Homo sapiens: one gene and its partners. The protein of the gene in region 2 interacts with the protein of the main gene of each other region in a pairwise test. Each region holds a gene or a part of one and is shown on either strand. Other genes may lie near its edges. The genes, in order: SLC7A14, MMGT1, PLPP6 and ITGAM.

Region 1 (7,607 bases), on a different chromosome or scaffold from region 2:
CTGTATTCAAGTTTCTTCAGTCCTTCCAGTATGACCTCCCACCAGCCAGATAAGGTCAGCCTGCACTTGTATCATTTCTGTTCACACCTTCAGCATTTGCTTATGCTGGTCCCATTTCTACAATAGCTTTCTCTCTCATTTATCCACCTGAAAAAATATTATATACCATTCAAGATACTGTTCAATTATAATTTCCTCTGTGGAAGTGAATTGTTTCCTGGTCTCTCCTTGGAGGCTCCCTCATAATATGTTATAGCATGTGTCATGTTGCATACATAATTAGTGGGGATTACATCTGTGGAACTTTCAGATTACTGGTGACTTGAGGCAGGGATTATGTCTCATATCCAGTGCCTAGCTAGGCCCATGCTTGTCATAAAACAAGTGAATATTACAATGTTTCTTCAATAAATTGCAAAGATAGTCATTTTAGAATCATGATTTACTGATTTTGCATCCCTAAATGCCAACCTTTAGGCCAGCTCTCACATTATAGGCATATTAACCTGCTGGGAATCTTTGCCCCTGCAGAGGTTGGAGGAGGCTTTTTGTAGGAGCTTCTGGGGGCTAATTTTAAAACCACTGATCTCTGACCCCATTGTTTTACTTATTGGTAAACTTACTGGAAGTCTGGTCATACTTCTGAACAATAACTACTACAGACCTCACATGAGCATGGCTGGATTTCACCTGTGGGTGGAGATGAAAAGTAAACGCTCTCTGTCTGCATCAATTGGAGAATTAGGGACCAGGAACAGCACATTACTTAGAGCGGTATTTTTCAGTGGGGGTGGAGTGCTATTGGCATTTTGGACAGGACATTTTTTATTCTGCAGGATTTTTCTGTCTAATGCAGGATATTTAACATTCTAGATCCCAGTCCACCAAAAGTCAGTAGTAACTCCCCTCTCCTCCAGTATCTGTGACAATATAAAATACCCCTTATTGAGGTGACATTGCCTCAGGTTGAGGACCATTAATTTGGAAGAAACCAGGAGGCCTCTCCTATTGTAAGTGCCATTTTCTAGATTTACAAATTTAAATCCAAGCTCTTCTTAACCTTGAAGACATTGATTTAGCTGTCAACCCTGGTTCAGAATTGGGTATCAACAGCTTGAGAGTAATTTCTGGCTGGGAAAGACTGAAAGGATGGAAAACCCATCTCTTTCCTCTGGACTAACTCTATGGTTAACAAGGAGCTTTAATTAATGCCATCTCACTGGCCCTATTTGTAATGTGAGGGGCAAGATCTATTACCCCTATTTTAAAGGTAAGGAAGTTCAGTCTTGAAGTAGTGAATGGTGCTGGCCCAAGTGTCACAGGTAGTACATTTCAAAGCTGAGTCTGGAAAGCAGATCTTCTGACTCCTAGGCCATCCCGCTCCCCACAGAGTATCTAGAAAACCACAGAGGAGGCCGGGCGCGGTGGCTCACGCCTGTAATCCCAGCACTTTGGGAGGCCGAGGCGGGTGGATCATGAGGTCAGGAGATCGAGACCATCCTGGCTAACAAGGTGAAACCCCGTCTCTACTAAAAATACAAAAACTTAGCCGGGCGCGGTGGCGGGCGCCTGTAGTCCCAGCTACTCGGGAGGCTGAGGCAGGAGAATGGCGTGAACCCGGGAAGCAGAGCTTGCAGTGAGCCGAGATTGCGCCACTGCAGTCCGCAGTCCGGCCTGGGCGACAGAGCGAGACTCCGTCTCAAAAAAAAAAAAAAAAAAAAAAAAGAAAACCACAGAGGAAGAAGTAGAGTTATGTATTCCGTAATTGGCCTTGGTGTTGATGGGATATGTAGCTAGTTTAACAAGCCAGAAACTAGAGCTAAAGAATAAACATGTATATTTGACTACTGTCAGAGCATTCTCAGCTGGTTAGATATACCATATTAAGAGCTAAATGCCCATTTGTATATTCAGTACATTGAAATACACAGTGAAACAGATGGGTACTGTGGTGTATTGTATTTATGACTAATTTGTTAACATAGGATTAATGAGAAGAAAACGATTTTCACAACATGATTTTGAAAGTTTTAGTCTTAGCCTTGACCCAAGCCTACCTCCAGGAAATGACACTCTGGGAGCTCTCCCTCTCTACTGTAAAAGCTGTCTAGATTGTTACACTGAGTCAAAAACCTAAAGGCAGAAGCTAGAAGACTCTACTGAACAGTAAAGATGTGGTGGGCTGACCTTTATAGCATTAGAAGGTGCTGGATTGATCCTGCACCAGCATCCATCTATTTCTGGTGGTGTGGCTGGCCACACATTCTGGGAAGAGGCAGAAGAGTGGTCCTCACCACATGCAGCCACCTGCACAGCACCAACATTCAATGCTGAATCACGTAAACAATTGGTCAATGACATCAATTGCAAAAGCACAAGAGCCATCTTACAGAAAGACAATGTAGATTCCCACACACAGGACTGAAGTTCTATTCACCATCTTGGTTGCTCTTCTAGTAAAAAATTGAGCTAAAATAGAAATTCTCCAGAGAATTGGCTGGTGTGTCAAGTGGCTATAAATGGCACACATCAGCTATCTATCTGTCAGATTTGTGGTTTTTATAGAGGCGGTGTAGCATGGTAGCACAAACTTGTTACCTGTGTCAAATTGGGCAGGTAATTTAACTACTTTAGTATCCAGGTTTCTCATCTGTAAAATGGCGATGATAGCATTACCAACCTTATAAAGTCATAGTAATTGTATATAAGTATTAGCTATCATTATCATTATTGTTTCCAGGTAAGGTACTAGCATGAAATTCAGAACTTCTGATAAATAATGATGTAAAAATAAGAATCTTGATTTATGTTTAATTCTTCGGTCTTAAGGAGGCAAATAATGGATTATTCAAGCTCTTGGCCCTATTTCATCGAACCATAGAATGTTATGGCTTGCAGGATATTGTACACTATTTAATCTAAATAACTTCTTTTAGGGATGAAGATTAAAAAGTAAGAAGAGTTAAATCCTTGCCTAAGTTCTTGCAACATGGATGATGCTGAGGTTTTGAATCTTTTTCTATGGCTTATAGTTCCACCCCTGAAATTTCTACCTGCTGACCATCCTTGACCAGTAGTTCTTTCACCTGGAGGTACAAAGGGAAATAATCTGAAATCCAAACACATACTCTTTCCTACTCCCTGAATCTTTGAGAAAAGATAAACCTGAATCTTTGATAAACTCATAGACTAAACAAGTTTTCATGACTAATGAAATGATGCATGATGTTAAAAAATGCAGAGTGGGTTCTATAATTGCCTGAGAGAGAGAAGACTCAAGTCATATTCCTCTGACATCAACTCAGGTGAGTGTTCCCAGCATCAATTTCTCTCTAAAGTGAGAGAGTTCAGTTATGTGATTGTTATAAAATATTGACATAATAATATGTTGTATAATCTCTAACAAACAATTAAGCCTTTCCATTTCTGAAGACCATTTTGTCAACAGAATGTTTAAACACCTGGGTGCAATTGTTTCTTATTTACTGATTATTTTTCAAAAACATGGAAAAATTTTTTTAAAATGAAGAGAAAATGAGAACCAGCTTGATCATTTGTTGTTCATTGGGTTGGAATATTTTGCCTTTGGCAAATAAGAATCAGTTAATTCTAGGCGTTTCCTTATTGACTTGCTAGAATAGAATGAGCTGTTTTTCTTTCATTTTTGTCAGTAATCACCAGTTAAAACCGTTAAAGGGAAGCCTTATTATTCCTGGAAAAGGATAATATTCTGTAAACCATCAGACTGCAATGTCGCTAGTTCTCCTCTAATTAATATATGTGCTTTCATTCTAAGCTAAGCTTCTTCTGAATTTAGGAACAATAGCAATTGCCTGCTGCTATCATGAAGGCCAGCCAAATACTTTCTGAAGGAAATGACAGGTATCTCTTCAAGATAAGAGTGGAAAAGAACACACAACTCCATTTAAGCTTTGAGTTTCTGAAGTTGCCTCATCACAGTGAAATGCAAGGCCCTTGGGCTGATTTGTGCTTTGTTTTCTGGGTGAAGCAGCAAGACACGGTTCTCAGGAGTAGTCTATCTTGGCCATCACTATTTATGCCCCGAGAAGGGCTAGAAGTGTGGTTATTAGGGTAAGATTTGATATACTGTGTTTGCCTCCTGTTTTATTTGCTAAAGGAAAATGCCATAGGGAATACTGAATTCTTGGTAGAGATAGACGAGTGTATGGCATGAATTAACCTGGAACAATGGTCTGAATTCACCAAATATTTATTGATCATCCATGTGTTCCAAACATCCTTAACCACAACATTTTTGTGTCAAAATAGGACATTCTTCAACTATGTTATTGATTAAATGGATGATTGTATGCTATTAGGATTTGTTTCAAAGCTACATTGTCAGTTCTCTTTATCTCTTGGGATCTACAATTAGAGAAATCCTTTAAGCTACAGACAGAGAAGAACTCTTTTCAGCTCCAAGGTAATGGCATTTTCCCCTTTCCAAAATCCAGGTCTTTCCAAGAGGTAAACAAGTCCAATGAAGTGAATAAATCATGACGCCCAACAACATATGTTTATTGTTAAAGCTAGCATCATCTACTAGAGGCCAGAGTTAACAGCTTCGCTTATTTTTCCTTCAGTAATATAGTCCCATATGCAACAAAGGCTTGAGGACAGCAGGCTTGACCAGAAACAGTGGCTAAGTGTATATCTCAACTATTTACCTGGCAGAGCATCTTACAAGGTAGCATCTATACCTTTGTTAACTCTAAACAAAGGTAAACTAGATCTCTGGAACTGGAGATAAAACCTCATGCCCTTGGTCATACTCAGCTTGATTCTCAGGTGCTTTGTTAATGAATGAATGAATAAATAAAGTGACTTCGTTGAGTTTTCAAGATGATAAAACCTAATAAATACAGTGAAGAAACATCTGATGGAATAGCTTTGTTTCCAGGCTTATTTTCTACAATATCTGAGCACTGTGTTAATCTTTGTGTTATAAGAGAAAAATATTTAAGTATCAAAATCGTGAGCCACTATAGAAGGTATGGCTGCATCTGAAAAGCAGTTTTACTTGACGCATAAATAGCATACACAGATCAAAGTGCGGGAGTAGGTCATAGATGCCAGGTTTGGGAGTAAATGTTAGCCAGATGCATAAGGTTCTCCTAATGACCCCAACAGATTTCAACTTAGAGAATGAATAAAGACTTGTTATTTAAGGTTAGAATCCCTAATGCAAACTCAATAATTCAGTCAAGTTAATGACCTTCACTTTTGTTTTGGTTTAATCAATGCATGAAATAGAATTATTCTTGTTCTGATTGATCTATGAGAATGGATAGAAGCTCATTTCAATTTGTAATTAGTAAAAATATGTTTTGAAAATTATCCCTCTCACCCCCTCACACTGAGGAATATCCATAATGCTTGTATTTTGTTATTTCTGAACCCCTATTACCATGATGGGTTCATTATTGATGATTACTTAAAAACTATTAGTTAAAAGGTAAAAGCTGTTCCAAACAACTTAGATTTCCTAGTTATTATTTTTTTTAATCCTGAGAAGAAAATGTTCAGGACCAAATAAACTAAACAACAAACAATGCACGGTATTTCAATTAATAGAATCTAACCAATCAGAAATTTCAATAACTAAATTTTTTCTTCACCGTTCCACTTTTCAGTGAAATAAATGACCACAAAGGCAAAAATACAGTCATATCAGATTAAAATCATTCAGAAATGCATTCAGCCTGAACTACCCTATTTGTACATTGTACCATATCTATATAAAATAATAAACCATTGCAGATTCAATCATGCTCCTTACAAAGTACTTTCGTATACCTACACTTTGAGTTTTACAATAGTCCTTTGAGATAGTTATGGCAATTCTCATCAACATCTTAGAGATGGAGAAATGGAGCTCTAGAGGGCCTCATAATGTCACCAAGTAGTATGTGACACCTGTACTACTGACTCCAAGTCTTATATTCTTTCCATGTCTATCATACTATGATTACTAAGACAAGATAAACACACACACATGTTATTACATATACATGTAATCTATAAACTTGGATTTTGAATTGGAACTTTCAGATTGTATCTAAGTCAAAATTCATGAAACCAGCAAACCTCATTCATGGAATATTTTACTTTATAGTAACATAGAATTCATATGAAGCAAACTCCAGAGGCTACCAGCTCCTTAAGTAAGACATGCACACTCCTTCATAGCCTAATTGTCCTAGGTATCTTTGGGCTACTGGTGATGTATTAGGCATAAGTGGCTTTTTCTTTCTTTCTTGGCAGAAGATTCAAAGAAGAGTAGGTCCTTACTTCTTCCCAGTTCCTAGTTCTTGGTTGCTGTGAGGGTGTGTTTAGTACTGTCTAAAGCAGCATTTTTCAACACAACTTTCTTAAATGATAAAAATTTTCTGATATCTGCCCTGTCCAACACAGTTGTCATTAGCCATATAGAGTTATTGAGCACTTGAAATATGACTAGTGTGACTGGGGGGCTAAATTTTTAATTTTAAAAAGTTTAATTAAAATTTAATTATAAATAGTTACATGTGGCTAGCAACTACCATGTTGGACAGAGCAGTTCTAGACAGTTTAAGGTTCTGGTTCACAGGGCCCAGAGCACCTCAGCAATAGCATTCTTGACAGATCACCTAGTGAAGGTACAATAGAAGTTATGTATTTAATTACAAATTATACCTTAATTGGCTCTAGAGAAGGTTTGAAGCAGAATGTTGACATTATCAATAAGAAGCCATATGGGAATTTTTAAATAAGAGATAACAAATGGGGAGAATATGTTTGGTAAATATTAAGAGATGAGAGAGCAAAACAGTGTCATTTGAACTGAATTTGAATTTCTAAATGCTATGTTTTGGAGCAGGATGGAACTATCAATTAAATACAAAAATCCAATTGATGAAGATGAGACTTTACTATGAGCTGGAAAGAGAAGAAAGAGGAAATGAACAGAACATCAGGTTCTGCTGTATGTTAGAGCGAACTAGAATCCTAGGACCATCTTTAGTGGAGCCACCTACTTGACAGAATTGTGATAATTCAGTAAAATGATTGATGAAATAACTTCACATAGTGCCTCACATATGATAAGCATTTCATAGATATTAGCACTTATAATGATCTTTATTTATAAAAATCCTTAGGTCTTATTAGGGCCTTTTCCCAGTCCCTATGAGAACATGGGCAGTTGCTTAGGGTAACCAATTTTGGGAAAATTATTTTTTGGGGAATAGGTCATAGAAGAGGAGATATAGACAAGATAGGGCAAGTAAAGAAATGACACACTACCATTCCCATTTGTGAATTGCTGCTTCAGAGAAAACTGTTACTGAGGAAGGTGGGTCATATCTCCCAGGTATGTTGGGTTAGACAACACTGGAATAGTAGGACCAGAGGGGAAAGAGCTGGAAGACAAAGGAGTTGGAAGAAAGGTAAGAGGAATGCTTGTATGTTAAGTGTTTGTATTTTTGGCATGTTGTTTAATTTAGTTCACTGATGCTGACGTTTAGTCAAAGATAATCAAAGAAAGCAGTATGGAAGAGTATTTCAGACACCATGAAATAGTGGGAAAGGCCCTGGGCCTGGAATCA
Region 2 (7,704 bases):
ATGAGGTCAGGAGATCGAGACCATCGTGGCTAACACGGTGAAACCCTGTCTCTACTAAAAATACAAAAAATTAGCCGGGCATGGTGGTGGGCACCTGTAGTCCCAGCTACTCGGGAGGCTGTGGCAGGAGAATGGTGTGAACCTGGGAGGCGGAGCTTGCAGTGAGCTGAGATCAGGCCACTGCACTCCAGCCTGGGTGACAGAGTGAGACTCCGTCTCAAAAGAGAAAAGAAAAGAAAAGAAAAGTGGAGATCAGATTTTATTTCATGTCTGAAAAATTTTACGAAAAACCAGTAAAAAAAAAATTATTACAAGCTATGTGGCTGATTTTAAACATACATGTAACGGAATATAAATGACCAACTTACATCTATTGGCAGTGATTCATCTTCTTTTTCTGTTAATCGCATATAAGAACGATCTATAAACCAGAAGCATACCATTAAGGAAACTGTAGTTCATTTTTCTTTCTTAAAATGAAGCAAATCAATATACCAAAGAAGTGGCTGACTTATGTGCAGCACACCAGCATGGCACATGTATACATATGTAACTAACCTGCACATTGTGCACATGTACCCTAAAACTTAAAGTATAATAATAATAAAATAAAATAAAAAATAAAAAAAGAAGTGGCTGACTTATATGCTACATAAAGTAATGCTAATCCTGGATTCCTCAAAACCTTCTATCTTCTAAGGTAGTCAGCTCTATCTTAGTCAACTATTTTATTTTCATCATGACCTGCTTTGTCACCTTATAAAATGGGTAAGAGTGACAAGTGAGCAAGTATGAGGCAGAAATACCTTAGTATAATTTTTCTTTCATTATTATAGAAATACTAGAAACTTCTCAAAACCGTTACTTTCACTAACTCGCCAAAGAAATCACAATTATTTAAAAAGTAAAGTCTACAGAAAATCTCAACTCTGAAATAGCACCACCACCAACCACACAGTATGGACAAAATAATACTGGTATGGAAATGGTTCTCCTGAGAGGATACGCTGGGGCAGTGGTGGAATAGGAATTCCATGAAATCAATTTCTGCCTCTACTAGTTAATTATAATTCCGCTGCTGCTGCCTTAACCTCAGGAGGCAGCAAGGGATAAAAGAAAAGGATCAGGATTTGGAAACTGGTAAGCCTAAATCAGTGCCAGCTCTTCAATTTACTATAATTTCATTTAATTAAAGAAGCCCGCAGTGATCATAATACATATCTCAAGTTCAGAGTGTTAAAATGGTGGGTGTCTTAGAATCAAAGAAATACAGTATCTATTTTTTTCATTACCTGAATTTCCACAACAGTAAAATGAGAATAATGTGAGGTGAGGATTAAACAAGATACAGTAAATGACTGGTGCCCTACTGTAACAAAGTTCATTACAGCAAAGATGAGCATGCCACAGCACCACATTGTGCTATCTGCTGCTACAGTCTGACATGACACACTTAGTCTTAAAGTTACATATTACTCTCTCCCTAACATGAGCATTATATATAAAGAGGTCTCACTGCAGTGGCAAATCCACAAGGCATTCTCATCACCCAAAACATAAAATACAAAAATCTTAATTCTAGATGAACCTAGGACAATCCCTATTTAATAACGTACTTTGGACTAAATAATTCAAACTGTTTTTGAGTGCATGTGTATTGACTCTTGAAGAAGAATGTGTTTAGAGACATTTCTTAAGTTTTAACCTACAGCTCTGTCATAAAGACAAGTGTAAAAGAAACATCAAACCAACACCAAAAATCGATTTTGACTAATCTCCTATCTGGTTCAATTCCTAGCTAGCTTGCTAGTTTGCATGAAGCCTCGCCTGCTTCTAACACTACCTTTAACCAGGAATTTCCTCATCTGTAAAATGAAGGGGTTGGACTTCAGTGAACTCCAAAGGCCCTTCTCGCCCCACAATCATATAATTCTACAGTTAAAGCTTACTGTAGAAAATGACACAGTACTCCAGTGTATCCTAATCTCTTCCAGGACAGTGTTTCTCAAACTAATGCGCATACAAATCACCCTGGGATCTTATTAAAACCCAGATTCTGATTGAACAGGTCTGGCCTGAGTATCTTCTAATTACCTGCCAGGTGGTGCTCATGATGCTGGTCTGTTGATCACACTGTAAGCAGCAAGGATCTAGGATACTTTCCTTAACCTCCCAGTTCCCCCAAAATATGACTGTCCCTGCTTCCATGCATCCTTATATACTTTTAGCATATCACTTTATTGTAACTACTTCTTGATCCACTTGTTTTCCTTTAGACTTTGAACTGGCTCAGGGCATCACTGTATCTCTAGCACCTAAACACAGCGCAATTTCAAACAGCGACCCAAAACTGAATTTCATAACGCAGTGTAGCACAAATCTTTTGCCCAACGTCACACAGATGTAGCGGTAATGCAAGTTTTTAACAACCAGTCCTTTAGACTCCCAGTCCAGTGCTCTTTCTCCTGTACCACAGTGCCTCCCTGAGGCAATCGGTCACTTAACTACTCAGTCTCTGCCTGGACAGCCCAAGAGTGCCCAAGATGTTGTCCACTTGGTTGTCGTGGGACCATGAGCAACCAGAGTCCTCAATCTCACAACTGTGCCTGATCTGCCCCATGCTGGATCTGACATCACTTGTCCTGGATTCCTGGAGACTCCTATTCTGAACCCTCTCCCAGACACCTCCTTCCAACCTTCCTGCAATTTCAGGTGCCACACTCTCTCCAAATTCAAACTCCGAACCTTCCACTGGGAACTCCTGCACTGATTTTCTTAGTCACCCCAAACTGTAAGGTCTCAAAGGACCATTAATCTGACACTCGGTCCGATGGTCCCTTAGAAGTGCGCCCACACACCGCCCCTAGGGTTCCACACCGAAGCGGTCCCCGTGCCCCAGGCACTTACGCTGCGCAGCGGAAAAGGCGGCGTGGGCTAGGGCAAAGAGACCGATGCCCACCAGCCCCTTCCACAGCGACGGCGCCATGATGCCGAAGGAGCAGCAGCCCAGCAAAAGAAGCGAAGGACGGCGGAGCTGTTTCTTCTTCCACCGGCGGGTGTCCGCGCGCCGCAGAAAGATGACGTCACTGAAGTCCTGAGCGCAAAGTGTCTCAGTGGTGGAAAAGCCAGAGGGCTGTGAGAAAACGGAAACAGGAATGCCGGGAAGAAGCAGAAAGCTACACGGAAAAAGGTCCGCGAGAACCCACGAACCTGCGCTATGGAGGCCTCTCTAGGAGGGCCGGAGCCCAACGGAGTCATAAACGAAGAGGCGAAAGCGGGAGCTACGGGGAAGCGAAGAGGAAGGGCGCCGGCAAATGGGGGCAGGGCCAGTGGCGAGAACAGGGTGGGGCAGAGGGACGGGGGCCTGCGTAGAGAACGTGTGGGGGCGAGGGGCGGGGTAGGCAGACGGGCGGGGTGGGGAAGACGCGCGGGGCCCGCACGAGGGTGGGTGTAGCCGAGGGGCGGGGCCAGTGGGTGGGTGGGTGGGCGTAGCCGGGGGGGGGGGGCCCTGGTGGGTGCGGTCGAGTGGCGGGGCCTGCGGGGAGGATGGGTGGGGCCGAGGGGCGGGGAGGAGGTGGGGCCGAGGGGCGGGGAGGAGGTGGGGCCGAGGGGCGGGGAGGAGGTGGGGCCGAGGGCGGGGCCTACGGGAGGATGGGTGGGGCGTAGGGGGCGGGGCGGAGGGGACGGAGAGTGGGTGAGGGCCGAGGGGGCGGGGAGGAGGTGGGACCGAGGGGCGGGGAGGAGGTGGGACCGAGGGGGCGCGGAGGAGTGGGACCGAGGGGGCGGGGAGGAGGTGGGGCCGAGGGGCGGGAGGAGGTGGGGCCGAGGGGCGGGGCTGGGGGCGTTGGGGAAAGGCGGTAGGTGCTGGATATAGACCCCTGACAGTTGTGTTTTGTGGGTTGGTTGGTTTTGGCTTTTTGTGAAACTGTGCCTTTTGTTTTCTGTAGGCCTTTCCTGTGCTTCAGCTCCCTGGAAACTGGCACTGCAGAAGGAGGCAAGGGTGTTAAAACGAGGAGGCAGTGTCAGGACAAAATCCCAGGATCTGGAACCCCAAATACTTGGCTCGCGGGAAGTGCTCAGTAAACCATTTTAAGGTCCTGGAGAAAGATTCGCGCAAAAAGAGGTGTAGCGCGGGGGGAGTGTTTTGTCGTGAAAAGAACCAGCTTACATTAAGGAAGAAATGAAAGAGGAAATTTTAAAATGCTAATAACGCAGCCTTCTTGCCTTGTCTCTATCTCTGATCCGGGTAAAATGTATACTCCTCTGCCCATTTTTCTTTGTCTTCATCTCCTGAAATGTAGACATTTAATAGTGAGCTTCTCCCCTTGACCTCATCACTCTGCTGTCCCCTGGGGAGCTCACCCATTCATTCCCACCGCTTCAGCCAGCAAAGGTATTACAGTGATTCCAAATCGACATCTCTATCACAAATATCTCTCCTTAGCTCCAGGGCTGCATTTCTGACTACCAGATAGGCATTTATTTCCTGTGGCACTTAAAACGTAATATGGCTAAAATGGAATTCATCCTTTTTTTCCAAATTCTGCACCAGTTCCTCCAGTGACCCCTGACTGAGTGGCAAAGCTTTGTAAACTGCATATCACAAGGTAAATGCAAAGTATGATCACCATTCTTTTCCTTTAACCCAATCAGAATTCTACGTTTTAGTTGCATCAATTTGCTTTTGCTCAAAGATGCGTCCTATCCTGACCACCCCTTTTAAATGTGCAAAATTCCTATTCCTGATCCCCTTATTCTGTTCTACTTTTTATATCACCTTCTAACATACTATATAATTTAACTATTTATGTTTGTTGTGTTACTGTTTACTGTCTGTCTTTCCCCACTGGAATGTAAGCTCTGAGAGAACAGAGATTTCTCTGTACCTAAAACTTTGACTGTCATGTGATAAGCATTCAATAAGTGCTTGTTGAATGACAAATGAATTCCGGAAAATAATTGGGACAGTATCCCTATTTGAAAGGATCTCTACAGAGAGTCCTTCCAATCTTTTGAATTGGGCTCAAAAATCCCCATGGACTTGCATGTACTCTCACATTTTGACAACCTTTTGATTGTAAACATTTTCTGATATGCTTGAGCTTCCTCAAAGCTGGAAAAACAAATAAGACATCTCATTAGCTGGGCATAGTAGCACATGCTTGTAGTCCTAGCTACTTGGGAAGCTAAAGAAGGAGGATTGCTTGATCCCAGGAGTTCAAGGCTACAGTGAGCCATGATTATGCCACTGCACTACAGGCTGAGTGACAGAGCGAGACCCTTTCTCTAACCAAAAAAAAAAAAAAAAAAAAGTAGAAGAAGACATCTAAAATTAATCATATTTCCTCAACTTTACTTATATAATTTTTGTCCTGGATCTCATTTTCCAAACCTTTAGTCATGTTCATTATTCTTTTCTGGGCCCTTTCCAATTTCTTCACCTCTAAGCCAGAATTTTACACAATACTTGATGGATGTCAAGTGCAGTATAATGCATTCCTTACAAATGTAGTTCTATTTATACAATCAGGAAGAACCAGGAGATAATCTCTCTGTAGTTGACAGGAAAGTGCTTCCTTCTCCGCCCCTGGGAGGTAATAAGGTAGAAAAGATAGTTGACCAAAAAAATCTTACAACTTTGTTTTGTCTAAAATAATGGTCAGATTGAAATTAGCCTTTTCAGATCCCCTGTAAAATTACCCCTTCTTCCAGACCAGCCTGGCCAACATGGTGAAACCCCATCTCTACTAAAAATACAAAAAATTTGCCGGGCGTGGTGGTGGGCCCCTGTAATTCCAGCTACTCAGGAGGCTGAGGCAGGAGAATCGCTTGAACCCAGGAGGCGGAGGTTGCAGTGAGCCGAGATCACGCCATTGCACTCCAGCCTGGGCAACAAGAGTGAAACTCCATTTCCAAAAAAAAAAAAGAAAAAAGAAAAAAACCCTTTTAATATCAATTTATCTGAAGCAGAAAATGATTAGGAGTTTTCTTATAGGACCTGAGATCTGGTTCTTTTCCTTTAAAAAGATGAAGTTATAGGAAAAAAGAAATTCAATAATGAATCTGGTATTTGTATAAACCACCAATGCATTATCCTAGTCTTCAGGGAGATCACCCATGTCCAGATATTGAGTTTTGTTTTCTCTATTGCCCTCTTAAGATGCATTTCTCACTCTTTTTTTACCTCTTTACCCATATACTGAATGCAAGAGAAACTAGCCTCGTTTCACATTTTCTAGTAATACATGGTTAAATTATGTTCAGGGAGTGAGATTTTAATTGTCTTTTCTGTAGATTCCAACCTGAAGGGAAGCCAAGGTATTCATAGTCACAGTTACCAAGGACTGTATCATTCAAATAAGTACCTTGGGTTCACTCATACATGGTTCTTTAAGTTGCAGTTAATCCCAAAGGTGCAAGGTACAGCTAGTGGTAGCACTGTTTTCATGAGCTCTTAGAACAAAAGTCAAACCTCATGAGAAAGTGCATTTAAATTCCTAAGTGACCCCAGAAGTGCTGTTTGTTTTTCCAAAGAAAGAGCCATTTTCCATATGCACCTTGGATAAATGATGTGGATGTTATTAAAGATGGGGATAATGGTCTCTAAAGCGTTTCCTACTGAGATGTTATTTGTGAAGACTTATCACGTTTCCCAGGCTAGTTCACTGAATAGAGAAAGCACTGCTATCCCAGACTCATCTTCAAGCTAATTGACTTATTACATGCCACCCAGCTCCACGAGTATCTTCACACACTGCTTATCCACGTCTCCATTTTCCATGCAGATTCTCCCTCGATCTGGCACACTGTTCTTTCCCACCTGGTTCAAAATTCCACTTTCCTTAGGAATATGCTCCTGACTATTATAGATATTTATGAGATATATACCTATTGTAGGCACAAAACCTTTCTTTGAGCTATTTATATTTCGTACAACCTCTCTGGGTAACACATTCTAGAAGTTTACTACCTGCCGAGTAAACTAGTACTTTCAATATTGAAATCGCATCCTGTTTACTTTTTTTTTTTCATTACCAAAGTGGTATGAGCTCATTGTAAGAAATTCAAACAATAAAAAAAAGTATTTGTCTTGAAGCATTAAGTGGTACCTTGGTATTTTAAGTTTTGAATCTGAGTAAACAGTACTGTGGTTACATGATTCATATCTTTAAGATTTGTTTACTTGCTGGATGATCTACACTACAGTGGTTAAAAGCATATGCTCTGGAATAGTTTTGGGTTTGAATCCTTGCTTTTCCTTTTCTACCTCTGAGAGATTGGAGAAGTTACTTAACTTCACTGCGCCTCAGTTTTCTCATCTGTGAAATGAGGATAATAATAGTGTTTACCTGCCTAGGTTGTTATCAGCATTGAGTGAGATCATACATATAAAGTGATTAGAATAGTCTTACACATAGTAAACACTAAGTAAATGTCAGCCATTGTTGTTGTTGCTATTGACCCTTCTAGCTATTTTTGTAAGCTAAAGAGGTTCCTTACCTTTTTAGTCTTTCCTAAAACATCAATTGCTTCTCTCTTTTGACTATTTTAATTGCTCTTCTCTGGACCATTTCCAGATCTACTAATATCTCTCTTAGGGTTTCATTACCACATGTGCACAAAGTATCCTAGGTTACTTGTGTGAGGTTAATATGATTATTCATTTCAAATAGCCTTCCTAGCTGGGCACGGTGGCTCACGCTT
Region 3 (7,878 bases), on a different chromosome or scaffold from region 2:
AGACCTCCGCTGCTGCATTATGGGCAGCAGGCTTTTACAGGTTGACATGAAAATAAGACAAAGAAAATATATTTAATTTGTTGGAGTGGAAAGACCCTAGTTAGAGATCAGCTGGCAGTTTCTGATAGGTAAAGTCTCTAGCTAAAGATTAGTTGGCAGTTTCTTATTGGTAAAATCTCTAGTTAGAGGTTCATTGGTGGCATCTGTTTGGTAAATGACTCTAGTTTTACTGTTTACATTGGGCTTCAGTTTGCTTACCTAGGAATTTAAAGCACTGGAGCCGCCCCAGCCTAATGACTTCCCCCACCCCCAATTTTTTTAACAGTACACACACAGAGTGAATGCCGTGTAAATATTGGAATTACACTGCCACAAGCCAAGGAACTATACCAGAAACTAGGAGAGAGGCCTGGAATAGGTCCTTCCCTAGTGCCTTTAAAAGGAATATGTCCCTGCTCACACTCTGATTTCAAGAATTGTAGCCTCCAGAACAGTGAGATGATATGTTTCTGTTGTTTAAGCCACTCTATTTGTGGTACTTTTGTATAGCAGCTCTAGGAAACTAATATATCCATATCTAAGGATTTTCTCAAGTATGATCTTGGGGAGTAAATAATCAACATGAACTGCTTAAACAATGACTTATATATTCTTATGAGTAACTTGTTGACCCAAATGCTTCAGAAAATTCCATTTTGAATTACACAGAAGATCCGAGGAAAAGAAAATTTTTTCACTACCTGCTGAAAGTAGTTGCAGCTAGAGAAGGAAACAGATACAAGGAAGCTAAAACCAACAGGAAGAAAGGAATATGAACCCAAACAACTCATGCAAGAGGACAATTAATTGACTGAATTTTATAAAATGAAAAAGTGGTTCCATGATTTGTTTGACTAGTAATCTCAAATGTACAGCTTTTCAACAGAGCCATAGTGGCATCTGAAATGTGACTCAGGCTCACTCTTCTCTTTGACAAATCAAGGAGGTTGGAGTTATCTAGTTGTGTGCTTCTACAGTTTTGTATCTTTGGGCTTCTTATAAAAATATTTTTAAAGACTTTTACAGGCCAGATGCAGTGGCTCATGCTGTAATCCCAGCACTTTGGAAGGCCAAGGCGGGCAGATCATTTGAGGCCAGGAGTTTGAGACCAGCCTGGCCAACATGGTGAAACCCTGTCTCTACTAAAACTACAAAAATTAGCCTGGTGTGGTGGCAGATCCCTGAACCTGGGAGGCAGAGGGTGCAGTGCCCCAAGGTCTTGCCACTGCACTCCAGCCTAGGTGACAGAGCAACACTCTGTCTCCAAAAAAAAAAAAAAAAAAGGCTTCTACAGAGCAAATTCAAAATTGATATAACTAATAAGAAAATTATTGGGATGGGGGAAAGACTGCACTTTTACCACCAACTTTTTACCATTTCTAACATCTAACTGGGAGAACTAAGTTCCTTTAGATTCTGAGTATATGTTCCAAGGTAATAGCCATTTATTTCTCTCCTCACTTATCCAGCCAGTTTGGTACATTCTTCATTTAAATTAATAGGTTGTGATTTATAAAAATGTTACATACAACCTTAGCCCTTCAGAAAATTGATCTTCATCTCCACTGTCAACCTCAGGTTGAAACAGATAGGTCACTTTCTGGGCATCACTTTCCAGACCTTTAAAAGTGACATGCTCAAGTCTCAGGATACAAAATCAATGTGCAAAAATCACAAGCATTCCTATACACCAATAACAGACAAACAGAGAGCGAAATCATGAGTGAACTCCTATTCACAATTGCTTCAAAGAGAATAAAATATCTAGGAATACAACTTACAAGGGATGTGAAGGACCTCTTCAAGGAGAACTACAAACCACTGATCAACAAAATAAAAAAGAGGACACAAACAAACGGAAGAAGATTCCATGCTCATGGATAGGAATAATCAATATCGTGAAAATGGCCATACTGCCCAGGGTAATTTATAGACTCAATGCCATCCCCATCAAGCTACCAATGACTTTCTTCACAGAATTGGAAAAAACTACTTTAAAGTTCATATGGAACCAAAAAAGAGCCCGCATTGCCAAGACAATCCTAAGCCAAAAGAACAAGGCTGGAAGCATCACGCTACCTGACTTCAAACTATACTACAAGGCTACAGTAACCAAAACAGCACAGTACTGGTACCAAAACAGAGATACAGACCAATGGAACAGAACAGAGGCCCTCAGAAATAATACCACACATCCACAACCATCTGATATTTGACAAACCTGACAAAAACAAGAAATGGGGAAAGGATTCCCTATTTAATAAATGGTGCTGGGAAAACTGGCTAACCATATGTAGAAAGCTGAAACTGGATCCTTTCCTTACACCTTATACAAAAATTAATTCAAGATGGATTAAAGACTTAAATGTTAGACCTAAAACCATAAAAACCCTAGAAGAAAACCTAAGCAATACCATTCAGGACATATGCATGGGCAAGGACTTCATGACTAAAACACCAAAAGCAATGGCAACAAAAGCCAAAATTGACAAATGGGATCTAATTAAACTAAAGAGCTTCTGCACAGCAAAAGAAACTACCATTAGAGTGAACAGGCAACCTACAGAAAGGGAGGAAATTTTTGCAATCTACTCATCTGACAAAAGGGTTAATATCCAGAATCTACAAAGAACTTAAACAAATTTACAAGAAAAAATCAAAAAACCCCATCAAAAAGTGGGTGAAGGACATGAACAGACACTTCTCAAAAGAAGACATTTACACAGCCAACAGACACATGAAAAAATACTCATCATCACTGGTCATCAGAGAAATACAAATCAAAACCACAATGAGATACCATCTCACACAGTTAGAATGGCGATCATTAAAAAGTCAGGAAACAACAGGTGCTGGAGAGAATGTGGAGAAACAGGAACACCTTTACACTGTTGGTGGGACAGTAAACTAGTTCAACCCATGTGGAAGACAGTGTGGTGATTCCTCAAGGATCTAGAACTAGAAATACCATTTGACCCAGCCATCCCATTACTGGGTATATACCCAAAGGATTATAAATCATGCTACTATAAAGACACATGCACACGTATGTTTATTGCAGCACTATTCACAATAGCAAAGACTTGGAACCAACCCAAATGTCCATCAGTGATAGACTGGATTAAGAAAATGTGGCACATATACACCGTGGAATACTATGCAGCCATAAAAAAGGATGAGTTCGTGTCCTTTGTAGGGACATGGATGAAGCTGGAAACCATCATTCTCAGCAAACTATCACAAGGACAGAAAACCAAACACCGCATGTTCTCACTGATAGGTGGGAATTGAACAATGACAACACTTGGACACAGGGTGGGGAACATCACACACAGGGGCCTGTCGTGGGGTGGGGGGAATGAGTTAATGGGTGCAGCACACCAACATGGCACATGTATACATATATAACAAACCAGCACGTTGTGCATATGTACCCTAGAACTTAAAGTATAATTTTTTTAAAAAAATGTGACATGCTCTACTCTGTAGCCTTCCTTCTCCCCAGATCTCCCTCAATGACATTGTTTGGGGCAAAATCATTAGACTTATTAAGGTTAAAATTGATTCCATCTCCAAATTCCAAAACAAAAATGTTAAGAGATTGTCAGTGATGACATAGTAATAACATCAATATTCTATGAATAGTTTAGTGTGAAGAAGGCTGGTAATGTTTTGACTATTTATATCACCATGTTATTCACCAGAATGGAATCTAGCCTTTATCACTGTAGCTAAATAATCTAGGTATGATCTGAGGAAACAGTAAATCTGAACAGCCTTTTTGTTACAGGATTTTAGTTACAGGATTTAACTAATTTCATTATTTTTTTTTCGCTATTTTTCTTGGTCTAACACAGTTTTTTCTAAGGTCCACAGTTTATTAATAATCCCTTTCGTAAATGTAATGCAATTACCTCTAACACCTCCAAAAACATTCAGAAATGCTCTCTTTGCTCCAGTTAAAAAAATGCCATGGGAGTTCCAAGAATAGGAAACATCAACCAGGGTATTTAGCACTAGATTGACAGAACTTGGCTCAGACCTGCATTACAAAAGCAAGTGTTCCGACTGCGGTTTTGCATTGTGCTGAAGTGCTTTCGGATAATTTTTTTAAAAATGAAATTTACCAAATAATGCTGTAAGAACTCTGTTCTTTATAAGAACTCTCAGGTTATCTTCAGACAACAAAAGCCAATGAGAAAGTCAAGATCACCTTTTCAAATCTCATGCTCTCCTGAATCATAATGGGGAACGCAGAGGGAAAGCTGTTGGTCTCCAGGTACTGATTCATGAGGTAGACCCCGAGGTACACATCTTGTTTGCCAGGCAGGAACACTCCTGGGCAAGAAATCTTAAAAAGAAAGAAAACAACAAACAAGGGAGAGAAAACAGACTTTGCTTTGTTTTGTTACACGGGGCTCTATTTCTCTTAAGCTCCTACAGACACTGACATTTTCCCCATCACCTCACTCCCTCACCTGTACCTCCCAACGCCAACATCCTCCCCTCTGCTCTCCTCACATTGGAAATTCCAACTCCCTCCCACGTCTCCACCAGGTGTCACAATCGCGCTCTCGCCGGCTCCTCTCCCCGCCCCTCCGGGATGGTAGTGCGGAAGCGGAAGAGGCTGCAGGGCCGGGAAGCCTCTGTTTGGTCCGGCCAGGTCCCGGGATCCGGGCCGCCAGCTGCGATGCCAAGTCCCCGGAGGAGCATGGAGGGACGGCCGCTGGGCGTCTCCGCTTCGAGCAGCAGCAGCAGCCCCGGCAGCCCAGCCCATGGCGGCGGTGGCGGCGGCAGCAGGTTTGAGTTCCAGTCCCTGCTCAGCAGCCGCGCCACGGCCGTGGACCCCACCTGCGCCCGGCTCCGTGCATCGGAGAGCCCAGTTCACCGCCGCGGCTCCTTCCCCCTGGCCGCGGCGGGCCCCTCGCAGTCGCCCGCGCCTCCGCTGCCCGAGGAGGACCGCATGGACTTGAACCCGTCCTTCCTGGGCATCGCCCTGCGCTCCCTGCTGGCCATCGACCTGTGGCTGTCCAAGAAGCTGGGGGTGTGCGCGGGAGAGAGCTCGTCGTGGGGCAGCGTGCGACCCCTTATGAAGCTGCTGGAGATCTCGGGACACGGCATCCCCTGGCTGCTGGGCACCCTCTACTGCCTGTGCAGGAGCGACAGCTGGGCCGGGCGCGAGGTGCTGATGAACCTGCTCTTCGCCCTGCTGTTGGACCTGCTGCTGGTGGCCTTGATCAAAGGGCTGGTCCGCAGGCGCCGCCCGGCCCACAACCAGATGGACATGTTTGTCACTCTCTCGGTGGACAAGTACTCCTTCCCCTCGGGCCATGCCACAAGGGCCGCCCTGATGTCGAGGTTCATCCTGAACCACCTGGTGCTGGCCATTCCACTGAGGGTGCTGGTGGTTCTGTGGGCCTTCGTCTTGGGCCTATCCAGGGTCATGCTGGGGCGGCACAATGTCACCGACGTAGCTTTTGGCTTTTTTCTGGGCTACATGCAGTACAGCATCGTGGACTATTGCTGGCTCTCACCCCATAATGCTCCGGTCCTCTTTTTACTGTGGAGTCAACGATGACACCATCTCATTGATTATGGCACCAGGAAGTCTGAAGGTTTCCACATTCGATGATGTCAACCTAAACCAGCAGCCATCCCGCTTGTCCCTCTTAGGCATTTCAGGCTTCCTTTGGGATTTCAGGTGTCCCATGATCTTGATGTGCTGCTAGGCTGGAGCACACACTGGCCATTACTGAACACAGCCATATTAGGGAAAGCAAAAAAACCCAAAAAATCCTCTATTGTATATTTATTCAACAACTGTTTATGTTTCCAGGACAACTGCAAAGAAAACAAGCTGAGGTGGTTATACTGTTGCTGTTAAAAGTTGGTATCAGTAAGATTTGTGTTTTGTGATAATCCCTAAATCAACATACCACTTGTAAACTGAACTTCGAGAAAGAAACATGATGTTCATTCTGTAAATATACATGCAGACAGGTCATGTACTAATCCTAGTCCTTTTCCTGAGGTAGATTTTAAACAGTATTTTTAAAGTCCAAGACATAGGTTTTTCTAGTTTATTCCCTGAAGATCTGTTGCCACAGTTGGGAGATTTCTTCTTAATCCTGATTTTCTTGGTAAGCTTTTTTACTTTATTATCTCTATAATTTATTATCTCTATCCATATTTGTGGATCGGGTAGTGGGAAAAGAGATTATAATACTTGTCTTTCTCTCCTCTCCCTCCATCCCTCAAAAGATCTTTATGCATTTCCCACTACTCCCTTACTGTCTTTTAGCATTCAGAGAAAAAGCCAACTTGCTTAAAGAGGAATCACTTAAAAGGTAGGCATATCTAAGATGCTCATAGAAGAGGAAGAATGGGACATGGCCCCATGCTTATTTTTGTTTACAACGTAACATGGCATGAGAGAGGGCAGAGAAACTAAGTTGCTGGGGAAAGTTAGAGGAACTGAAAGTTTGGGAATAGGCTGACCACATATTATGCCAGTGACCAGTATGACAGGAGATGGGGCCCTGCTGCCAGTCATCTCCACTGAATAAAGAATAATGCTCCTCTTTCAGGGTAATAAAGTGGGGAAAAGGAACGTCTTCTCAATGCAAGAACATAAGCTTTCTCGTATATACCTGTATGCTACAGTTTTTCACATGGAATTCCGTTTTCTGAGGTACAGCACATTTTAGGTAACAGTATTTAACTTGAAATTCATCATGGGAGTCTGCTGCTATACCAGGCACAAGATAAAACTCCAAAATTTCTGTTTACATTGACCTTTACATTTAAAGCTGTTCATCCATGGTGCCTCCCCAAATCATAAGACCAAAGACCACCAAACGCAGGGTGGACTCTGCTCATTATTCTTTGACCCAGAAAGACTGGAGAAGGTATGTGCTTTAAGTGCTGCTCTACCTGAAAAGAAATCCTTTAAATTACCTATGGAAGTGATGTCCTCAGATAATCTTAATGACTATTTTGGCATTTATAAATAGAAATGATTATGGACTTTGATCTGCCATACGGAGGTTCGGAACCTGGAGAACGGCTGTGATAAGTAGGTTTTGATTGAGTGAAAGCATGAGCTTGTTCAGAGTGAGGGGCATAGTGAAAAAGGAACAGCCATGCCTCAAAATCAAATCATTTGCATTCCCACAGCATCCTGAATACCGACTACCTCTTCACTTGCTAAAGCAGCTAAACTGTGAAGCTCTAAGTGGTTTGGGTTTGTTGTTTAACCTTAGCGAGATCCTTTAACTGCAGCAATATTCAAGCCAGATATTTGGAAGCAAATGATATTTCCTCTTGCAGTGTCCACAAATCTGAATATTAGGGGCATGAAATTAGGCTTACCATCTGATTTGTAATTACAATTTTGGAATTCTCTGTTTTAGTTGCTGAGGCCTGAGTTTTCTGGCTCTTAAAGCATAGATCATTTCACCTGATGTTTTTGAAGCATCCTAAGTACAGTAGAGTAGAAAACTGATTTCTTTGTTAATTGTACACTGAATAATGCCTTTTAAAAATCAAAATAAAATTAACAAATAATGGTGAATGAAGTGAGATGAAAACTTGCTTAATTTTTGCCTTGATGAGGAGGGAGACAGATTTATCACTTAGCTTCTCAAGAGTTCCTTCTTCCTGCACAATTTTTAGAGCTTAAAACTGGTATAGCACTACTAATAAGGTCTAGCCCTATTTGCTGTCAGCAAAGTGGGACAAATCCAGGAAATGTTGATCACCTTTCACACCCACATGTATGATGAAACCACACCATTTGCCAATTGTATGGAAGACAACCAGATTCCATGACAATTTCCT
Region 4 (7,732 bases), on a different chromosome or scaffold from region 2:
GTTTGGGAACAATCTAAATGTTCATTAACAAGAGATCTAATGTAATGTAAAAGGAGATTACAAGCCAGGCACGGTGGCTCAAGCCTGTAATCCCAGCACTTTGGGAGGCCGAGGCAGGTGGATCACCTGAGCTCAGGAGTTCAAGACCAACCTGGCCAACATGGTGAAACCCTGTCTCTACAAAAATACAAAAATTAGCCAGGCGTGGTGGCAGGCACCTGCAATCCAAGCTACTCAGGAGGCTGAGGCAGGAGAATCGATTGAACCCAGGAGGCAGAAGTCGCAGTGAGCCAAGATCATGCCACTGCACTCCAGCCTGGGCGACAGAGGGAGTCTCTAAAAAAATAAAATAAAATAAATTATAGCATCTCCCAATTATGGCATGCAATGCAAGCATAACATGGGATTAATGGACTCAAATCACTGGGCTGTATTATGGGAGATAAAGCAAAGAGCAGAGACCAGCCCCCTTCTTCTGGAAAGGTACTATCACCTCCACAATTACTGTTTCTGTAAAGGTAAATGTTTTAGGCTTCAGGGTCCATACAATCTCTATCACAGCTCCTGAATTCTGCCATTACAGCTCAAAAGTGGCCATAGCCAGGCACAGTGGTTTACACCTATCATCCCAGCAAGTTGGGAGGCCCAAGCAAGAGGATGACTTGAGGCCAGGAGTTTGAGACCAGATTGGGCAACAGAGTGAGACCTCGTCTATACAAAAAAAATCAAAAAATTAGCCAGGTGTGGTGGCACATGCCTGTAGTCCCAGCTACTCAGGAGGCTAAGGTGGGAGGATTGCTTGAGCCCAGGAGTTTGAGTCTACAGTGAGCTATGATTTCACCTGTGCACTCCAGGCTGAATGACAGAACAAGACCATGTCAGAAAGGAAAGAAAGAAATGAAGGAAGGAAGGAAGGAAGGAAGGAAGGAAGGAAGGAAGGAAGGAAGGAAGGAAGGAAGGAAGGATGGAAGGGAGGGAAGGGAGGGAAGGAGGGAAAGAGGGAAGCAGGGAATGAGAGAGGGAGGAAGGAAGGAAGGAAAGAAGGAAGGAAGGAAGGAAGGGAGGAAGGGAGGGAAGGGCAATAAACAGTAAGAGACAAGTGGACGGAGTTGTTTTCAATAAAATTCATTCACAAAAATAGGCGGCAGCCTGCAGGCAGGCCTTAATTTCAGTACAATGTATACTACACATGGTGTGTTGGCTGAGGGAGGGAACGTGTATGTGTTATGCACACACAGAGTCTCCCCGAAGGAACACCCAGGAAACCATTTGTGAGGTCCCTCCTGGGAAGGGAACTAGGGGAAGGGAGTAAGGAAGAGATTTTTACTCTTACACCCTTTTGCATCTTTTGAATTTAGAATACTGTAAATTCAAAAGATGAATTTGTTGTATATTTTGAATTGATTTATCTGTTGAAAAAGATCACTCAAATCGCTGATTTTTTTCAGGTATGTAAGTCTTGGAGAGAAAGCACTGAGAAAGGGGGCTCCATCTAAGGGTCTCACCTGGATCCCTGAAGCTGGACCACGCTCTGCCCGAAGCCCCTTGCGTTCTCTTGGAAGGTCATTGCGTTTTCAGTGTCCAAGTTGAACCCATGACATAAGGTCAAGGCTAAAGGGAGAATGGGGGAAGGATCAAGCAGAGGAAAGTAGCATGCCAGTTAGGGGCTGTAGTCCTAGCACTTTGGAGGGCTGAGGCAGGAGGATCACTTGAGCCCTGATTGTGCCACTGCACTCCAGCCTGAGCAACAGAGAGAGATCCTATCTCAAAATTAAATACAAAAAAAAAACAAAAACTAATAATAATTTAAAAGAAAGCAATGGCTGGGTGTGGTGGCTCAGGCCTGTTATCCCAATAATTTAAGAGGCTGACGTGGGAGGATCACCTGGGCTCAGGAGTTTAAGACCAGCCTAGGCAACACAGTGAGACCCCATCTCTACAAAAAATAAAAAATTAGCCGGGTGTAGTGGTACTCAGGAGGCTGAGGTGGGAGGATTGCTTGAACCCAGGAGGTCAAGGCTGCAGTGAACCATGATCATGCCACTGCACTACAGCCTGGGCAACAGAGAAAGACCCTGTATCAAAAAAAAAAAAAAAAAAAAAAGATAGCAGCATGTCTTCCTGCTCCATTCCCTTTCCCATCCATTCGGTCACCCTAACTAACCCAGCATCCAGATGTCTGCCTCCCAGGTCCAGCTCTGTTAGCCTGGGGCGGGGATTAGCACACTTATTCTGTAAACAGCCAGATAGTAAATTTTAGGTTTTGCAGACCAAGAGGCTGATAGAATATGTTGTACAAGTACTTATATAACAAGACAGAAAATACTTTTCCACAAATTTGTCATTAGGGAAATTTCAAACATAATGATTGAGTACAATTTGTTTGTAATACGGGTTTACAAATGAGACAAATAGAATTCTTTGGGGGTGGTGCTCCCTATCATCAAATCGATTATCAGTGTTCATCTTCAATCTCTAGCTGGCAGGTTGTGCAAAAACAGGTCGTGGGCCATATCGGGCCCCCAGGCCACTGTTTGCTGACTCCTGACCTAAGAACCACCGTCGTGGGGCACGTCCAGTCCTGCTCTGAATTCCAGCCTCCCTTCTGAGCACCTAAATGGCTTCTTCCCCCGGTGTCACAACGATGATTTGCCCAACAGTGAAGTTTCTATACATTCTTAATTAGATAATTTCCTTCCTATGCAGCTCTCAAGTATTTCCTTCCCTTTTGAGGAGAATTTCATTTTCCACAACATATAAGCATAAAAGGTAACAAACTCAAATCATTTTCATTCATCAGTCATTCAACAAACATTTGCACCCGGGACCTTGGAAAATAGAACCGGAGGCAAAGTGGAGATGGTGAGAGGGGATCCAGGAGGAAGCACTCAGGAAAGGGGTCTCACACCTGCTGCGCACCCTGAGCCATGTCACTTCTCCTCCCTGGGCCTCCGTCTCCTCATGTGTGAAGCAAGGGGACCGGCAAGCAGCCTTGCACAGTCCATGAATGTGGTCATTCATCCAGGCTTCCCTGGCCAGCCTGTCTGGGTCTAGCTGTTCTCCCTGCTTCTTCTTGAACCCTTTCTCCTTCCCCAAATCCCCTTTGCCTCTCCCCAGACTGACTCCTACATATTCTGGGCCCTCTATTTATGACAGACCCAAAAGTTACCCTCCTCCCCACCCAGAGTCCCCCACCCCACCCCCATGCACCTGTTAACAGAAGGACTCTGAGAGCCATGGCTGGAAGGAGCCAGAACCTGGAAGGAGGTGAACCAGGGGTTGCAGGCACCACTGAGGAACCACAAGGAAGCCACCAAAGCAAAGAAGGGCAGAAAAGGAGAAGTAGGAGGCAGAAGTCTATCAGAGATTCAAAGGAAGAGGGCGGAGGCTCAGTGAGCACATAGCCCTGCCTGGTCTTCCGCCCAGGACTGCCCACAGCCTGCCCACCCTTCCTCCCCAGCTTCCTGACCCAAACTTTCAAAGTCAATACCACTATCCAAAAGGTGCCATTTGTCACCCACTTGTTTCTTGGGTTGGCCCAAGCATATGAACAAGCTGAACAGACTTAGCCTGCCTCCTGGAATTCGTGTTCTAAACATTAATACGGGCCAGGCGCAGTGGCTCACGCCTGTAATGCCAGCACTTTGGGAGGCCAAGGCAGGAGGATTGCTTGAGCCTGGGAGTTTGAAACCAGCCTGGGCAACATAGAGAGACCCTGTCTCTACAAAAAAATATTTTTAATTAGCTGGGCATGGTGGTGCGCGCCTGTAGCCCCTGCTACTGGACAGGCTGAGGTGTGAGAATTACTTGAGCCCGAGGTCCAGGCTGCAGTGAGCTAGGATCACACCACTGCACTCCAGCCTGGGCAACATAGGGAGACCCCGACTCTACAAAAAAATACATTTAAAAAATTAGCCAGGCATGGTGGCACATGCCTGTAGTCCTAGCTACTCCAGAGGCTGAGGCAGGAGGATTGTTTGAGCTCAGGAGTCTGAGACTGCAATGAGCCTCAATAATGCCACTGCACTCCAGCCCAGGTGACAGAGTGAGACTCTGTCTCAAAAAAAAAATTAAATAAATAAATAAGCAAACATTAATACAGATCAAACAAGTGTAGGAGGTAAAACTCTGTGTCTTCCTGAAAACACACTTTGCAAAATGTCCCTCCTTCAGCCCATGGAAATGGAAGCGCCCTTCAGCCAGAGCTGTCCTCATTTGTAGCCATCAACAAAGACAACTCAAGTACAGGCATACCTGGTGCTTTTTAAATATTATTTTGTGCTTTTTTTAGAGACAGAGTCTAGCTCTGTTGCCCAGGCTGGAGTGCAGTGGTGTAATCACAGCTCACTGCAGCTTCAATCAACCTCCTGGGCTCAAGCGATCCTCCTACCTCAGCCTTCCGAGTAGCTGGTACTACAGGCACATGCTGCCATGGCCAGCTAATTTTTTTTAAATTTTTTGTAGAGACAAGATCTTGCTATGTTGTTCAGGCTATTCTCAACCTCCTGGACTCAAGTGATCCTCCTTCCTCAGCCTCCCAAACTGCTGAGATTACAGGTGTGAGCCACTGCATCCAGCCTATTTTTGTGTGTGTGTGTGTGTGTGTGTGTAAAGGCCTCAAGCTCTTCACCCAAGAATTTTCACTTCTAGTAATTTATCCTAAGAATAGTTAAGAAGTGTAGTCAAAAATATATGTACAAACTTGGCTGGGTGCGGTGGCTCATGCCTGTAATCCTAGCATTTTGGGAGGCTGAGGCGGGGTGGCTCACTTGAGGTCAGCAATTGAAACCAGCCTGCCCAACATGGTGAAACCTCATCTTTACTAAAAAGACAAAAAAATTAGCCAGGCGTGGTGGCAGGCACCTGTAATCCCACCTGGGAGGCTGAGGCAGCAGAATCACTTGAACCCTGGAGGCGGAGGTTGCAGTGAGCAGAGATTGTGCCACTGCACTCCAGCCTAGGCGACAGAGCAAGACTCTTATCTCTAAAAAAAAAAAAATATATATATATATATATATTTGCAAGCTTGTTCATTGCAGCATTATTGTTAATATGAAAAGCTAAAAAAACCTGAATATTCAACAGAGGAATGGTTCAATGATACTTCACTCTGTGATATATCCTTACCCTCCCCTGTGTCTGTCACTTTTAATTCTGTTTTCAAAGGCACAGGAAAATAGGTATCCTTCCACACATACATGGAACACAAACCTCACCTTTATGTGACCGCCAATGTGATTCTCAAGCCAATGATTTTTTTCACTCTTTCTCAACACATTTTCTTTTTTTTTTTTTTTTTTTTTTTGTGAAACGGAGTCTCCCTCTGTCGCCCAGGCTGGAGTGCAGTGGCGTGATCTCAGCTCACTGCAACCTCTGCCTCCCGAGTTCAAGTGATTCTCCTGCCTCAGCCTCCCGAGTAGCTGAGAATACAGGTGCTTGCCACCACGCCTGGCTAATTTTTTGTATTTTCAGTAGAGACAGGGTTTCACCATTCAACACATTTTCTTTTGCCTCTAGTTCTACTTTCCCGATAACTAGATGGAAAAAAATGCTTGCTGGCTGAAAAAAAAAAAAGCAATTAAAATTATGTACATTTGGTTAAAAATTATCTGTTTATAATTTTTATATATAGCCAGGTGTGGTGACTCCTGCTTGTAATCTCAGCACATTGGGAGGCCAAGGCAGAGGGATCATTTGAGCTCAGGAACTCAAGACCAGCCTGGGCAACACAGCAAGACCCTGACTCTACAAAAAAATGTTTAAAAATTAGCTGGGCATAGTGATGCACACCTGTGGTCCCAGCTACTCAACAGGCTGAGGTGGGAGGATCGCTTGAGCCAAGGAGGTTGAGGCTGCAGTGAGATATGATTGCACCACTGCACTCCAGCCTGGAAAACAGAGCCAGACCCTGTCTCTAAAATATATATAGGCAGGGCATGTAATATATACAGGCACGCCTGTAATCCCAGCACTTCGGGAGGCTGAGGTGGGAGGATCACCTGAGATTAGGAGTTCAAGACCAGCCTGGCCAACATGGTGAAACCCCATCTCTACTAAAAATACAACAATTAGCCAGGCGTGGTGGCAGGCACCTGTAATCCTAGTTACTTGGGAGGCTGAGGCAGGAGAATCACTTGAACCTGGGAGGTGGAGGTTGCAGTGAGCTGAGATTGCACCATTGCACTCCAGCCTGGGCAATAGAGCTTGACTCAGTTTCAAAAAATAAAAAATTAAAATTAAATAAATAAGTACATACATACAAAAATAAATCATATATATATATATATATATATATATATATATATATATATATATATGCAGGAAAACCAAATGTTAATAGTCGTTATCTCCAAGATAGGAGGATTACAGGTATGTTCCAGTATCTATTGCTGCAGAGCGAGCTACTCCAAAACTTCATAGTTAAAAACAGCAGCATATTATAATCTCTCGCGTATCTGTGAATCTCCTGGCCTCAGCAGTTCTCAGCGGGGTCTCTCACATGATTGCAGTCGGATCACAACCAGGGCTAGAGTAATCCAAAGCTCAGTTGGGCTGGGCTCCCAAAATGGGTCACTCCCACAGCTGGCAGTTGGCCGTGGGCTAGGAGCTCAGTTGGGGCTGTCACCTGGGCACCCCCACGTGCCCTCTCCATGTGGCTTGGGCTTCTCGCAGCATGGTGGCTGGACTTCAAGAGCAAGTGTTCCAACAGACAGGAAGCAGAAATTTCCAGGCTACTAAGGTCTTGATCTGGAAACTGGCGCCAAGTCATCTGCACCACATTCCATTGATCAGGCAGTCACAGAGCTCATCCACATTCAAGCAAAGGGGACACAGATCCCACCTCCCAATGGGAGGAATTTGTGGTTGTATTCAATCTGCTACAAGATGACTTTAATATTCTTTTCTATATCATTTGTACTTAAAATATTTATATAGGCTGGGTGCAGTGGCTCATGCCTGTGATCCCAATGCTGTGGGAGGCCAAGGCAAGAGGATCACTTGAGCCCAGGAGTTTGAGGCTACAGTGAGCTATGACCTCAACACTGCACTCCAGCCTGGGCAACAGAGCAAGACCATGTCTCAAAGAGAAAAAAAAAAAAGACCTTTATACAAAAAAAAGACTCATAATCATAAAAAATACCAATAGATAATTTAAAACAACAGGTTACCTGTATTTGTTAGCAGGTAAAGAAGCTGAGGAAAGGACGAACGAAGTCATGAGCCCAAGATGAGAAGATACCAACCAGGGTGCCCGGGGAGGAGTTTAGTAGATCAGCTGGGTTTGCTTTGGGAAAAGTTTTCACACTCTGGCCACTATGGGGGCTGCTCGAACTCAGACGTGGAGGCCCCTCCTTGCCCTGAACAGTGGCCAAGGGTCCACTCTCTGTAAAAACATAGGCAAGATCTCAGACTGGCTGTCCAACCTGCAGAGGCTTTCTCAATGAGCCACCACCAAGTGTGCACCTGACCTGGTGACCGTGGGTGGGGACATATCTATAAGCTGTTGGCTGTTCCCTCCTACCTGTCCCCCATCCCCACTCTTGATAAAATCTTAGCTTGATTTCCCCTATAAGTGGACTCTGAGACAAGGCTTCAAGTGTAAGTAATTTATCTGGAAGGTGATTCCGGAAACACTGGTGGGAAAGTGAGGAAAAGAAGGAGCTAATGCCAGGCACAATGGCTCACTGCCTGTAATACCAGCACTTTGGGAGTCCAGAGTGGGAGGATCGCT

Evidence for each region.
Region 1: the proteins of MMGT1 (region 2) and SLC7A14 interact in binary tests that used the Homo sapiens proteins (3 or more experiments, as listed by UniProt).
Region 3: the proteins of MMGT1 (region 2) and PLPP6 interact in binary tests that used the Homo sapiens proteins (3 or more experiments, as listed by UniProt).
Region 4: the proteins of MMGT1 (region 2) and ITGAM interact in binary tests that used the Homo sapiens proteins (3 or more experiments, as listed by UniProt).

Annotation. Positions count from the first base shown.
Region 1 is NC_000003.12:170,575,924-170,583,530, forward strand, and holds part of SLC7A14 (solute carrier family 7 member 14), read right to left. Parts: intron 1-7,607. UniProt on the Homo sapiens protein: Imports 4-aminobutanoate (GABA) into lysosomes. May act as a GABA sensor that regulates mTORC2-dependent INS signaling and gluconeogenesis. The transport mechanism and substrate selectivity remain to be elucidated.
Region 2 is NC_000023.11:135,970,690-135,978,393, forward strand, and holds the start of MMGT1 (ER membrane protein complex subunit 5), read right to left. Parts: upstream 3,300-7,704; 5' UTR 2,987-3,299; coding exon 2,908-2,986; intron 422-2,907; coding exon 369-421; intron 1-368. UniProt on the Homo sapiens protein: Part of the endoplasmic reticulum membrane protein complex (EMC) that enables the energy-independent insertion into endoplasmic reticulum membranes of newly synthesized membrane proteins.
Region 3 is NC_000009.12:4,657,647-4,665,524, forward strand, and holds PLPP6 (polyisoprenoid diphosphate/phosphate phosphohydrolase PLPP6), read left to right. Parts: upstream 1-4,647; 5' UTR 4,648-4,729; coding exon 4,730-5,617; 3' UTR 5,618-7,612; downstream 7,613-7,878. Other genes in the region: SPATA6L (spermatogenesis associated 6-like protein), read right to left, coding at 4,253-4,390. UniProt on the Homo sapiens protein: Magnesium-independent polyisoprenoid diphosphatase that catalyzes the sequential dephosphorylation of presqualene, farnesyl, geranyl and geranylgeranyl diphosphates.
Region 4 is NC_000016.10:31,255,571-31,263,302, reverse strand, and holds the start of ITGAM (integrin alpha-M isoform 2 precursor), read right to left. Parts: upstream 3,329-7,732; 5' UTR 3,239-3,328; coding exon 3,211-3,238; intron 1,612-3,210; coding exon 1,506-1,611; intron 1-1,505.